Linked DNA regions of Homo sapiens: all the other regions are linked to region 3. Evidence: fine-mapped expression QTL. A gene starts in region 3. Each other region holds a variant in brackets. All regions are shown on one strand. Distances are between the middles of the regions.

The links.
Region 1: its variant is fine-mapped to the expression of PRKCZ-AS1 in thyroid (GTEx, PIP above 0.99).
Region 2: its variant is fine-mapped to the expression of PRKCZ-AS1 in whole blood (TOPMed, PIP 0.98).

The regions. Positions count from the first base shown.
Region 1 is chr1:2,059,248-2,063,399 of GRCh38, reverse strand. It overlaps PRKCZ (protein kinase C zeta), which reads right to left. Exons shown (of 18, transcript NM_002744.6): 4 at 3,809-3,859. Among named protein-coding and RNA genes, the nearest start is that of PRKCZ, 11 kb to the right of the region's middle. RefSeq lists an enhancer at 2-171. The variant C/A (reference allele first, on the strand shown) is at 1,862.
Region 2 is chr1:2,110,376-2,114,527 of GRCh38, reverse strand. All of the region lies in intron 4 of PRKCZ (protein kinase C zeta), which reads right to left. Among named protein-coding and RNA genes, the nearest start is that of PRKCZ, 62 kb to the right of the region's middle. RefSeq lists an enhancer at 1,981-2,030. The variant G/A (reference allele first, on the strand shown) is at 1,983.
Region 3 is chr1:2,182,245-2,186,396 of GRCh38, reverse strand. PRKCZ-AS1 (PRKCZ antisense RNA 1) reads left to right here and starts at 2,522. Exons shown (of 2, transcript NR_146290.1): 1 at 2,522-2,826; 2 at 3,656-4,152. It overlaps PRKCZ (protein kinase C zeta), which reads right to left. Exons shown (of 18, transcript NM_002744.6): 17 at 1,699-1,814; 18 at 1,002-1,475. The coding sequence ends at 1,388. It also overlaps a transcript of FAAP20 not described here.

The DNA of each region.
Region 1 (4,152 bases), 120 kb after region 3:
TGGAGGCTGCAGTGAGCCGAGATCGTGCCACTGAACTCCAGCCTAAGCGACAGAGCGAGACGCTATCTCAAAAATAAATGAATAAAAATAGAATGATCAATGATCCAGCAATCTCACTTCCGGGTCTACACCCAGAACTGAAGGCAGGGTCTCCAGAGGTCACTGTGCACCCGTGCTCACAGCAGCATCATTCACGACAGCTAAACTGTGGAAGTCACCCGTGTGTCCACTGACAGAAATGGGTAAACAAAATACATCCATACAGCAGCCTGCGGTTCAGTCTTGAGAAGGAAGGAGACTGTGACACAGGCTACGCATGGCTGCGCCTTGAGGACATGGTGCTGAGTGAAATAAGCTGTCACAAAAGGACAGATCCTGTGCGATTCCACTCACAGGAGGCCCCTAGAGTCACCAAAGTCACAGAAACAGAAAGCGGCGGGTGGGTGATGGGGGCTGGGGGAGGCAGAATGGGGAGTGAGTGTTTCATGGAGACAGAGGCTGAGTCTGGGAAGATGAAGAGAGTTCTGGAGATGGGCGGTGATGATGACTGGACAGCAATGCGAATATCGAATACCAGTGAATTGAACCTTTAAATTTTAATGGCTAAGATGGGGACAGGCTCGGTGGCTCACATCTATAATCCCAGCACTTTGGGAGGCCAAGATGGGTAGGTCACTTGAGCCCAGGAGTTCGAGACTAGCCTGGGCAACATGGTAAAACCCCAACTCTACAAAAAGAAAAACTCGGCCAAGTGTGGTGACACACACCTGTAATCCCAGCTACTCGGGAGGCTGAGGCATGAGGACCGCTTGAGCCTGAGAGGCAGAGTAGTAGTAAGCCAAGATTGTACCATGCACTCCAGCCTGGGTGACAGAACAAAACTCCGTCCCCCCTCTGCCAAAAAAAAAAAAAAAAAAGTTAAGATGGCAAAAATAGATGTTATGTGCATTTTACCAGAATAGAAAAAAGATCTGCAGCGCCAAGAATGCCCCATCATGGATGAACCTTGGAAAGGTCAGGCGGGTGAAAGCCACTAGAGGCAAAAGGACAAACATGCAGGATTCCACGGACACCAAACGTCCAGAATCCGCAGGGCCACAGAGACAGAGGCTGAGCGGAGGTGGGGCTGGGGCAGAACAGGGAGTGACCGATGACGGGCACGGGGTTCCCTTTTTGAATATATTTTGGGTTTGTAACTACATAGAGATGATAGTTGTAAGTATACTTTAGAATTTTTTTAAAAATCTATAAAACCAATTCACTCATATAGACACACATAGAATGTGCCAGAAGGTCCTCTGCTGACGGTGAGACAGGCACGTCCAGCCGTCTGAACCAGGCCCACGGTACAGCCGCAGTCCTGCCCTCGTCTGCCTCTGGCGTGCTCCATCCACTGTACACACCTCCCAGTCCGACCCTTCTCACTGACCCTCAGCCTGGGCAGTGCTGCCTGAGGTCAAAAACACCTGTGAACACCCCCACAGGCGCTAAAACCACAGAGCCCCAGGCGGCGGCCACTGGCAACCAGAGCAGGGTGTCCTGTCTGAGATGAGCACCACAGTCAGAGTGAAAGAAAGCACAGGACATCAGGGAGAGCGCCAGCCCCCTAAGCCCTGGTGGCCTGGGACCCCGAGTGGGCAGTGTGTTCTCACACACTCCTGACACTAGCGCCATGAAACCCAACCCACGTCCGGGTGGACATCAGCACACAGGGCAGGGCAGGGCTCCCCACCCCCAGCACCCGCCTCTGACCTCCTCGGCAAAGGCTGCCCCAGAGGCTCTGGCGGAATGTCCCCAACCAGGCTGAGTGGTCCCCGAAGCCGTGGAGCCACCCCTGGTAAACATCTCAAGGACCTACTCA[C/A]GTGTCCCAGGAGGTCCTTCCTCGGGGCTTGGCCACATTCTCCGCATTCCCCACGGTGACTCGGCTGCCACCCCCATGACACACTCCCCTTCAGAGCTCAGGCCTCTGGACATCCTGTGACCCCCCAACCTCCCCTTCCTCCACTGCAGTGGCCGAGCAAATGCGGGCCTCCCTTCCCTACGCAAGGCCGGCAGGTTGTCCACACGGGCAGAGAGGCAATGCCGAGGTCGTAGACAGAAAGAGCAGACCCCAGGCCCCCAGGCAGGGTTGAGACAAGAGGCAGACATGTCGGAGAAATACGGTGGGCTTCCCCCGCGCCCAGGGGCTACACTGGCCGCATGTGGATACCTCTGGGAGTGCACAGTCTCAGCACACATGGGACAGAGGAGCACAGTCCTGTCACCAAGTCAAAAAATCACCCAGGTGGCAAATAAACACGGCCCGTGGGTCCCCTCCTATAAAGCAGCAGCATGAGGCTGCAGGGCGCTGTGGAGGGGACAACCATCGTCTCACCCACAGGGAGTATCTGTCCTATTTATGTGTTTATGTATCTATAAAAACGCAGTGAACCGTGCCCTCCCAGGGTGCGTGCTCCAGGGTCCGTGAGGCGTGGGCACCCAGAGGGAGGGTCCCGGGAAAGGTCACCACCAGGGCAGCTGCGTAGGTGATCAGGGCCCTGACGCCCACCGTCTGGCCACCTGCCTCCAAAGCCTCCCCGCCCCCTGCCTCCTCACACTCGCCCTGCGCTGCCAAAACCACCTGGTGGTGTCCGCCTGCCACGGACATACCCCATCTCCTCCTGCCGGCAGGTCCAGCCCCAGACCACCCGCTCCATTCCTGCCAGGGCCCACCTCCGGATGGCTCCTCGGCCTTGCCGGCCACGGTGCAGGGACCCCGGTTGGCTGAGGGCCTGGAACCGGGATGCCACGCCGCCCTCTCCCCGGGCAGATCATGGAAATCCCATGGCTCCTGGGGCCTCCCCTACGCTAAGCGCTGCCAAACCTCTATTCAGCCCCACTTCTCGCTGGAAGCCGAGACTCTCGCCCCCTATGCTAAGCACTGCCAAACCTCTATTCAGCCCCACTTCTCACTGGAAGCCAAGACTCTCGCCCCAACTGCCCACTCACCCTCTTGGCCTGAATCTGCTCCCACCCCCAGTTCCCGCCCAACACAGGGCACTGCCAACACCCAGCATCCAGCCTGAGGCCAGCGAGGTGTGTGCCCTGGCAGCAGGGGTGGGGGAAGCCCTGCCTGAAGGGCACTGAGCCACGTGCCCTGCGCTGGACAGGCAGCGGCCTCGGTCCAGGAGCTCCTGCCCACACAACGAACAAGGCATGGCACGGATGCTGGAGGCCGTGTGGGGTCTGGAGAGTGGGGGTGGAACCCCACCAAGCACAGCCATGGGATGCGCGGCCCGAGAGCAGCGTAGCCACCTGCTCAGGGCCCAACAGTCTCCGGGATGCAGTAGGAAGTGAGGTCAGAAGCTTCCCTCTGAAGCCACAGCCCCCGGGACTCACTCTCCTTCCTCTCCCAACAATGGAGCCAGTGTGGGATGAACGGAGCCCCCACACCAGCTCAGGGGCCAGCAGGGACCAGGAGGAGCAGACGACTGGCCTAGGGGTGGTCGTGAGCTGAGGCAGCCACAAAGGAGCAGTGTCCAGCCTCCCACCTGGCCCCTCCCTCCTAGGGAGACGGCAGGGCACCCCTGGACTTCTCATGCTACCAACCAGCCAAGCGAGTCCCCCGCCATGTGGTGCTGTCAGCCAGAACACGCACAGGCAGCAGCTGCAGTGAAAACCCCACCTGCGGTCACCACGGCTGCTCCTGCCCTGACGCTCCACGAGGGTGAACCTCCGAAAACGGCACCACTGCCACCTCCGTGGCACAACGGATCAACAGTTCAACCCCGTAACATGCGAGACCGGCGTAGGAAACCCCAGTACTCACTGTCTTCTCCCGGACATGGCAGGCCAGGCTGCTCAGGGGTGCTCGGGAAAACTGGACAAGAGAGAGAAAGAGACAGCGTCAAGACCCTGCGGCTGCCACTCAACAGTCTCACGGAGGAAGTCCCGCCTCAGTCAGGCTGAGCACGTGGACTTCACGCAAGGCGCACGTGGCACTGCCAATGAGAGCCCGCTCCTGGGAGACGCAAAACCCCGTGCGTCTACGTAGGCCAGGCTCCGACTTTAAAACCCACGGAAAAACTTAGAGTAAAAGGCAATCAGAGGGACCTGGACAGCAAAGCCATCAGAGGAAGCTACTGATTTGTATTTTTAAACTATATAAAAATG
Region 2 (4,152 bases), 72 kb after region 3:
CTGGGATTACAGGCGTGAGCCACTGCGCCCAGTCATCTTATCTTTTTCTTCAGCTTATTTTATTTGCTCTGTAAGCTTAACTTTTGTGAGCTGAACTCCAAAGTCAACCTGCTGTTTGATTATTTTTGTGACTTGTTTCAAATAAAACCTCTTCTAAGAATTAATGTCCACCATATTCCTTTTTTGTCCAACAAAATAAGTCATCTCTTCTGTTTCAAATGTTCCTTCCCTCATTGGACACTGTGCTTGGGCTACCTGTATTAACACAGATCCCTGGAGAGCACGTTCTCAACACACAAGACGAACCTGCCCTGCATCCGGGGTCCCTCCTTCCACGTCCTCCCAGGCCACGACGGAGCGTCCTCCTGGAGAAAAGCTGGGGTGGGAGGGTGGGGGGGTGCAGCCCTCTGCTGTTTTTATCTCCTGAGCATTCCGAACGCTTCCACAAACTTACGCAGCCGGCCATACCCTCACCCACGCGCCACACGCACCACACACACAACATGGCGCCCGCTCTCCCTCCCCCAGAGCCAGCCCCGTGGAGCCCTTGACCGGTGGCACCCAATCCCCAGGGCATGGATGCTGTGGGCTGGGCCCCCGCCCTCTCTACACTCCCACACCATCATCTCCCCTCCCTCAAACACATGGGCACTGCGGTCCCTTCTCCCTGCCCCAACACCAGTGCCTTGACCTCCCTCCTCCTTGGCCACACCACCCACCTGCCATCCCTGGAGTCACCCCCACAAGGACTGGACCACAGCCTCTGCCCCATGAGTCCTCTGTGCCCCAACTCTCACCCACCCCCCAGCATTCTCCACGGCAGCTAGGCTGCCATTGGCTCTCAGAGATACCACTACTTCGTGCATCATGAGGAAAGACAAAAAATGTTGCCAACTCAACTGGGACACAGACAGGCAGGCTGCACCCCCTTCCAGGATGTCAGGATAAGAGAAGTCCATCCCAGCTCACTCAAGGCCCTGGTCGCCTCTGACAAAGGGGCTATCGGATGCTGCCTCTGTGCCACTTCCGAGTTTCTGGCTGACACCCTGGTCCTCACCTGCTGGCTTCCACCTGCCCTGGGTCAGGAGCGAACTCGGGCAGAAAATATGAATGCCCCGGATGAGCCCCCCTCAAAGCCCAAGATGGGGAGACATCAGGTAGAAGCAGCAGGAGCACATACTTGGCGATCCACAGGCAGCCCACCGAAGAGAACGTCACAGTCACCACAAATCACTGCTGAAGGCGAGACCAGTGGGGAGGAAACGGGGCGGCTGCCTTTTTAAACCTTACGTTAAAACCTTACATTAAAAAACATACTCATGAATCGAGGTACTCGCTAGTCAGAACTGAGACCCTGGAGGGATCCCCCGGGGCCCTGACTGGTGCTGCAGGCCCTCAGGCAGTGCCCGGCTCCAGAGCAGGAGAGGCAGGCACCTGGGTGACCCGGCCAGCCTCGGCCAGCAGTGGGCAGGCCCTAGCCAAGCCACTGTCTTTCCTTCAGCTGATGACTGTAAGTCACAAATGTAAAGAAAATGGGGCCGGGCGCAGTGGCTCAAGCCTGTAATCCCAGCACTTTGGGAGGCCAAGGCAGGCGGATCGCCTGAGGTCAGGAGTTCGAGACCAGCCTGGCCAACACGGTGAAACCCCGCCTCTACCAAATATAGAAAAAAAATAGCCAGACATGGTGGCGAGCTCCTGTAGTCCCAGCTATTTGGGAGGCTGAGGCAGGAAAATCCCTTGAACCCAGGAGGTGGAGGTTACAGTGAGCCGAGATCACGCCACTGCACTCCAGCCTGGGCGACAAGAGCAAGACTCTGTCTCCAAAAAAAAAAAAAACCAACCAACCAACCAAACAAACAAAAAAACGGAACTGCAACTCCAGCAAGTTTCAAGGACCTTTTTCTTCTTCCTTTTTTGAGTACTGTGATGATTACAGGCATCCAGAGAAGGAGGAGGAAACGTGTGGGGTCCCATTCACCTCC[G/A]CTCCAAGCGGCGGCTGCACCCCACAGTCCCCCATGCCGGGACCTCAGCATGGGCCTCTGGGTTGGACTGAGGGGTCCTCAGCATGAAGCTGGCTGGTGTTCACGGGGCAGGGGTTCCAGGCTGACCCTCCGCCTGAGGCTCGTTCATCCTCATTGCAATGGAGCACGTCAGAGGTTCGCGGGCCGCCTCGCCGGCTGCTTCGGACAGAAGGTGCACTGTGCCGTTTGAGGCCTCTGTGTCACTGGGGCAGGGGCCTCAGCTTAACCCACATAAGGATCATGTCTACACATAAACGTCAAACACTGTGTTTTATGAGCAATTTAGGGGATTCTAAGCAAAGCCTGTTTTTTGCCTTCTAGGCAGACTCCTGGAACCCGCACCCTGTAACCCAGGCAGAGGTGAAGGAAGGAGAGGGGAAAAGCTCTGCTGGAAACCACATTCTGCAGCGATTTTCACTCAGTTTGGGAAACACTTGGAGTTTGGGAGACGTTTTACAGCAGATTCATGAAAATGACTTGTCCCGAGGAAACATCGCCTCGAAGACGACTAAGGTGAAAGGAAGGTGCCAACTGGGAGGCTGGCACACGGCACTGCCCTTCCCGGGTCTTCTGAAAGGAAGCTGTGGTCCCTTCCCCGACACCCGTCTCTCCCACATGGGTGAACATCCAGAAGCCTGGTGGTGGATGGACGGTCGGTCAGGAGGCCGGACCCACAAGTGCCTACGTACCTCCCTCCTGCACGTCCTGAGGCTGTAGGTCAAAGGGCAAGAAACAAGGGTGGAGCCAGGATGTGGGTGCTGTCCACACCAGGACAGAGGGTCTGGCTGGTGGGGAGTCGAGGGTGCGGGCTGGAGGGTGAGGGTCCTGAGTCCAGGCCGGCAGCAGCCCCGCCAGTTCCTCATCCAGACCAGCCCAGACTGGAGAACTCCAACAATGGCAGGCGGGGCGCAGCAGGCAGGGGACAGCTCCCAATGCCAGGTGACCCGGCAAGCAGGCTCCCTTCCTCCCCCTGCCACACACTCTTCCCTAACCCCAGCCCCTCCCTGTCCGCCTCTTGAGTCCTGACAACCAGCTTCTCTGGAGACACCCAGACCACCAAGGTGCACCCCTTGTTGCGTGATCCCCTCTGGCCCCCTCATCCTGCCCATCACTTCTCGGAGGCTCAGCCCCAGGCCTCCATGTTGCACCCCCACCCCGCCTGTCCCTGTCAACCTGGGACCCTCCCTGGCTGTGCCCCAGACCTTCACAGTTGCCGTGGGGTTCCCTCCCCGTCCCCTAAGTGGTCCAAAGACACCTTCTCTGCCTCTTTCTTTTCCCACAGCACCCTCCTGAGGGCTCAGTAACCTCAGCTCAGCCCGAGTTAGGCCCAACACGCACAGCCAGCCCCACAGCTCCCAGCACCCACCTCGGCTCCTCCTCGCCTTCCCTGCCGCAATACCCATGGGTGCAGCAGGCCCAACTTTCCTCCTGCCTTCCATCCTGAGCCCTTACCTCGCCATGCTGTGTGAACTGGCCTGGGTCCCGCCCTCAGGGCGGGCACGGGGTAGGGTGGGGGAGCTCAGGATGGCAGGCCTCGCACCCGAGGGGAAGGCCGCAGGGACGTGTGCAAGCTTCCAGTCCCTCACCTTCCGGCTCGGTCTCTCAGGAACTACACCGTCCACCAGCCCCACCCTGGCCCCACAGAGTCCACTGTCACCAGCCCCTACAGGGACTCTACTGTCCACCAGCCCTGCCCCCCACAGGGACTCCACTGTCACCAGCCCCACCCCAGCCCCCTTCACTCCGCTGCTCCCAGCTCTCTCAGGACCCAGCCCACCCCACCCACACTCACAGGGTTTCAGGCAGAGGCCCACAGTCACCAAGGCCGATCCAAACCCCCATTCCCTGGGCCAGCGATGGTGTGAGGGTGGACAAGTGACCCAAGGGTGTCGAGGGCCCAGTGGACTCAGGGGACTCCAGGGACTTGGGGGACCTTCGTACCAGAGGAGTCTCTGTTTCCCTCTTCGGGCCCAGTGGACTCAATGGACTTGGGGGACTCCGGAGATTCAGGGGACCCTGGTACCAGAGGAGTCTCTGTTTCCCCCATGAAGCTGCGACCCAGGAGCCACGGGGCTGCCACGGGACCAGGAGCCCCCTGACCGGGGATGAAGCCTGAACGGAGGAAGCCAGT
Region 3 (4,152 bases):
TCGTGCTGAGCGCCAGGCACGGAGTGGCACCCTGAGAAACCTGAGTGTGTAGGGTGGGCCACGCTCACCTGCTGGGGATGACCTTGAGGCAAGGCAAGGCGCGGCACAGACCTCCTAACTTGGGGTTTTACGTCTCTCTTCCCCAAGCCACCAGCCGCACAATGGGGTGGAGCGGCCCCTGAGTCATGGAGGCCTGGGGTCTCTGCGCCTGGCCAAGAGGGCTGCGTGGCAATTTCCACACCTGTGCACCAGGCCTCACTCAGAGGCATGAGGTGGCGCGACCCCCTCTCCCAGGGAGCTCAGAAGACGGCTCTGCCACACCTGACACCTGGCAGCTGGCAGCCCTGCCTCTAGGAAGCCTCAGCTCTGGACAGCTGTGCCTTCACCTGAGGGGTGGGTGGACGGAGAGCGCGGGTGTGTTCCCGGGAGCAGGAGGTCCGCGCCGCTGGGAAGAGTGCCTGTGTTTCTGGGTGTTTGTAGGGTCATCACGTTCAACTTTAAGGCTGGGGTCCGTCACATGCACATCTTTTAGTTTTCCCTAACTCTCAGTGCTGTGTGACAGATAAGAATATCTTCCAAAAATCAAATGCGTCGCACGAGGCATCGTGCAGGCACTGCTTAGTGTGGTCAGAAATGATTTGTGCAGATTTAGTGTTCAGTTTTTTCTCTTTTTTGGTCTACTGTGCTTTGGTGGGCCACGTTTTAGAATCTCTATGATCCAATTTCCCCCATCGGTCCAGTGAGCTGGCTGGCCCAGCTGCCATCTGCTTAAGGTGTCACTTCACCCTAGACCACAGCGGCTGGGACACACTCTGCAGGAAGAACAACAGGAACTTACCGGGGTTTTTAGGAAACAATTCTTGATTGCGGTGTGTCCCCACAGGTACTTCAACTCCCGCCCCCACCTGTGTCCCGCTGGCTCCTAAGCTGCCCCCCTACGTGTGGGTTGCGTCTGAGATGTGGGGCAGGCGCCACTCACGGAAAAAAGGCATCAGAGGAGCTTCCACATCATCGGAACATTTTATTCCTCAGGACGCTACACGCTCACTTTCCTGGCGGAGCAGGTCAGTGCATCGAGTTCTGTTTCCGTGGAAAATGTGCACCTTGGAAACCGCATGACAGCCCCCTCGGCAGGGTCCCCGCGGATCCGCCGCGACGCAGGCACAGCAGCAAGTTCCTCCAGCACGAAGCTGGCCTGCCCGGGCCCAGGTGTGAGGGACTGTTCTGCTCCCAGCAGCGCCCGCTGACGCTTCCCTCTGCGGTCTCGGCGCAAGCGTCTGTCCCTGGCCGCCCTCGGAGCCGTGCCCAGCCTGGCATGCATATGCGGTGGTTAAGGATACAGTTAAAGGGTCAATCACGCGTGTCCACGACAGAGACGCACGCGGCCTCACACCGACTCCTCGGTGGACAGCAATAATGGGTTGATATACTCAAAGCCTTCGAACTCTGACTGGTCGATCCTCTTTATGGCATCCCTGTGGGCAAAGGTGGCAGGGGGGAGGGGGGTGACCGTGTGTTCATTCCCTTGGGGGAAGCGGAGTCACGTTCGCATAAGAATCCTCCCCCAACGCCCACTGGAGAGATGACACCAGGCGGGTGGGACTCAAGGGCAGGCTGGGTCACCAGCTGCCCAAGGTGCCGGCCTGCCATGGGGCTGCCCGAGGGGTGCTCCAGGGACCCGCACCCAGTGGGACTCACTCATCGTCTGGGGTCAGCTGCACGGGCTCGCTGGTGAACTGTGTGTCAAAGTTGTCCAGACCGTAGTCGTCTGTGATCTGTGGCTGGAATGGAGGGAGCGCCTGCTTCTTCTCCAGCTTGGAAAAACAATAGGAGAAGGGTCAGCTCCGCGCGGGCATCATCCCTACCAGATTGAGTGTTTTGCACGCACTTCAATCACAAAATGAAACAGTGAGAAAGTCAGCATTTCAATCTGCCTAGTATTTGACTGCCAAGTGTTTTTTCTTACAACACAAAATCTAGAAAATATCCAAAGTCAGAAAAATTGTTGTCGAGCTGAGAAATGCCAGTGTCGGCCATGCTGGCCACATGTGGGACGGAGCAGGATCCCCAGCCACCCATGCGAGGCCACCCCCTTCCTTGGGGGGGTCCTTGTTCAGAGGGGCACCGACAACTAACTGGCTGAACAAGCCGTCTCATGACGTCTTGGAACCCTGACCATAAAGGTGTAGGACCTGGCCACAGCACCCTGCCTGCGCTGGCACTGCACAGACCCGTCTGTCAGGAGCCTCCTGCCGGCCCATTTCTGCCTATCCAGGCATCGACTTCAGAATCTCAGGTGCTGCTTGGCAGGAAAATGCCCAGCAGGCGGGCCTGGGACTCGGTGATGCGCCTGTGCCGGGGAGGGCAGAACGCTGGTGCCTGGCACAGGTGCCACAACACATACGGGTGAGGACACTGAAAACCCCTCAGTTCCCCCGACTCATGGCCACTTGTCCCAGTGACACAGCCATGCTCTCCCACTCACCCACAATAGGGTCTGAATGTGCCCCCCAGATTCACAGTGAGAAACTCATTCCCCAGAGCAACAGTGTAGAGAGGTGGAACCTGATGGGAGCCCCGCCCTCACAGACAAACTCCTGTAGCTGTCAAGACAGCTTGGGCATGGATTCCTCTCTGCCTTCTGCCATGTGGACACGTGGCCTTCCTCCCCTCTCTCCTCCGGGGAATGCAGTGTTTGGGCGCCATCTTGGAAGCAGAGATCAGGCCTCACCAGACACCAAGCCTGCTGGCACCATGACCCTGGACTCCCAACCTCCACAGCTGGGAAAGAACTCTGCTCCCTAGAAATTACCCAGGCTCGCTCAGGTATTCTGTTACAGCAGCACCAAGAGACATTCACTCGCTTACTCCCTCACTCTCTAACCCACTCCCATTCACCCTCTCACTCCCTCTCTAACCCACTCCCATTCACCCTCTCACTCCCTCGCTAACCCACTCCCATTCACTCATTCACTCACTCACTCTCTAGCCCACTTTTTTTTTGAGATGGAGTCTTGCTCTGTTGCCCAGGCTGGAGTGCAGTGGCGCGATCTCGGCTCACTGCAACCTCTGACTCCGATTCAAGCTATTCTCCTGCCTCAGTCTCCTGAGTAGCCGGGACTACAGGCATGCACCACCATGCCCAGCTAATTTTGTTTTTTGTTTTTGTTTTGAGACTCGCTCTGTCTCCCAGGCTGAAGTGCAGTGGCACGATCTCGGCTCACTGCAAGCTCCACCTCCCAGGTTCACACCATTCTCCCGCCTCAGCCTTCTGAGTAGCTGGGAGTACAGGCGCCCGCCACCACGCCTGGCTAATTTTGTTTTTGTATTTTTAGTAGAGGCAGGGTTTCACCATGTTGACCAGGCTGCTCCCGAACTGCTGACCTCAGATCATCTGCCCTCCTCGGCCTCCCAAAGTGCTGGGATTACAGGCGTGAGCCACCGCGCCCGGCCCTCTTTAGCCCACTCATTCACTCACTCCCTCGCTCTCTAACCCACTCCTGCTCACTCACTCATTCACTGGCTCACTCACTCTCTAACCCACTCTCTCTCATTCCCTTGCTCGTTCTCTAGCCCACCCTCGCACACTCATTCACTGGCCCGCCCCTTAGGTGTGTGCTCCTGTACCAACACTGAAATCCAGCTGTCACAACAGGCACCCACTGACTCCAGCCTCATGGAACCACCATTCACCAGGCTTGAGGGGAGGATGTCACGGCGCGCTGCTCCCTTCGGTGCCAGCCAGGATGGGGCCGGGTGGGTGCAGCTGGTGAAAAGAAATGCAGCCCCCCAGCCCCTGCAGACCAAGCCGAACAGCCCAGCTCGCGGGTGGATCACAGGGCACCCAGCAGCCGCCTTCCCTCCGGAAGAGCCAAGAAGGCTTCCAAGACCAGAAATGCCCCCAGTGTGGCTGTGCCTGTCCCCGGTGCCCCGCCAGCTGGGGGGCAGCATACCCAAACAGATGCACCCTGCCCATGATGGCACCCCAGGGACCCCCATCCTCAGGACCCTCCAGTCGTTCAAGCTGGAATTGGCAGGTTTCTGCCTGTATAGGCATCGGCTTCAGAGTCTCAGGTGCTGCTTGGCAGGAAAATGCAGGGCAGGAGGGGCTGGGCCTCAGCTCGAGGCTCCCAGGTGCAGCCCCCCACTCCA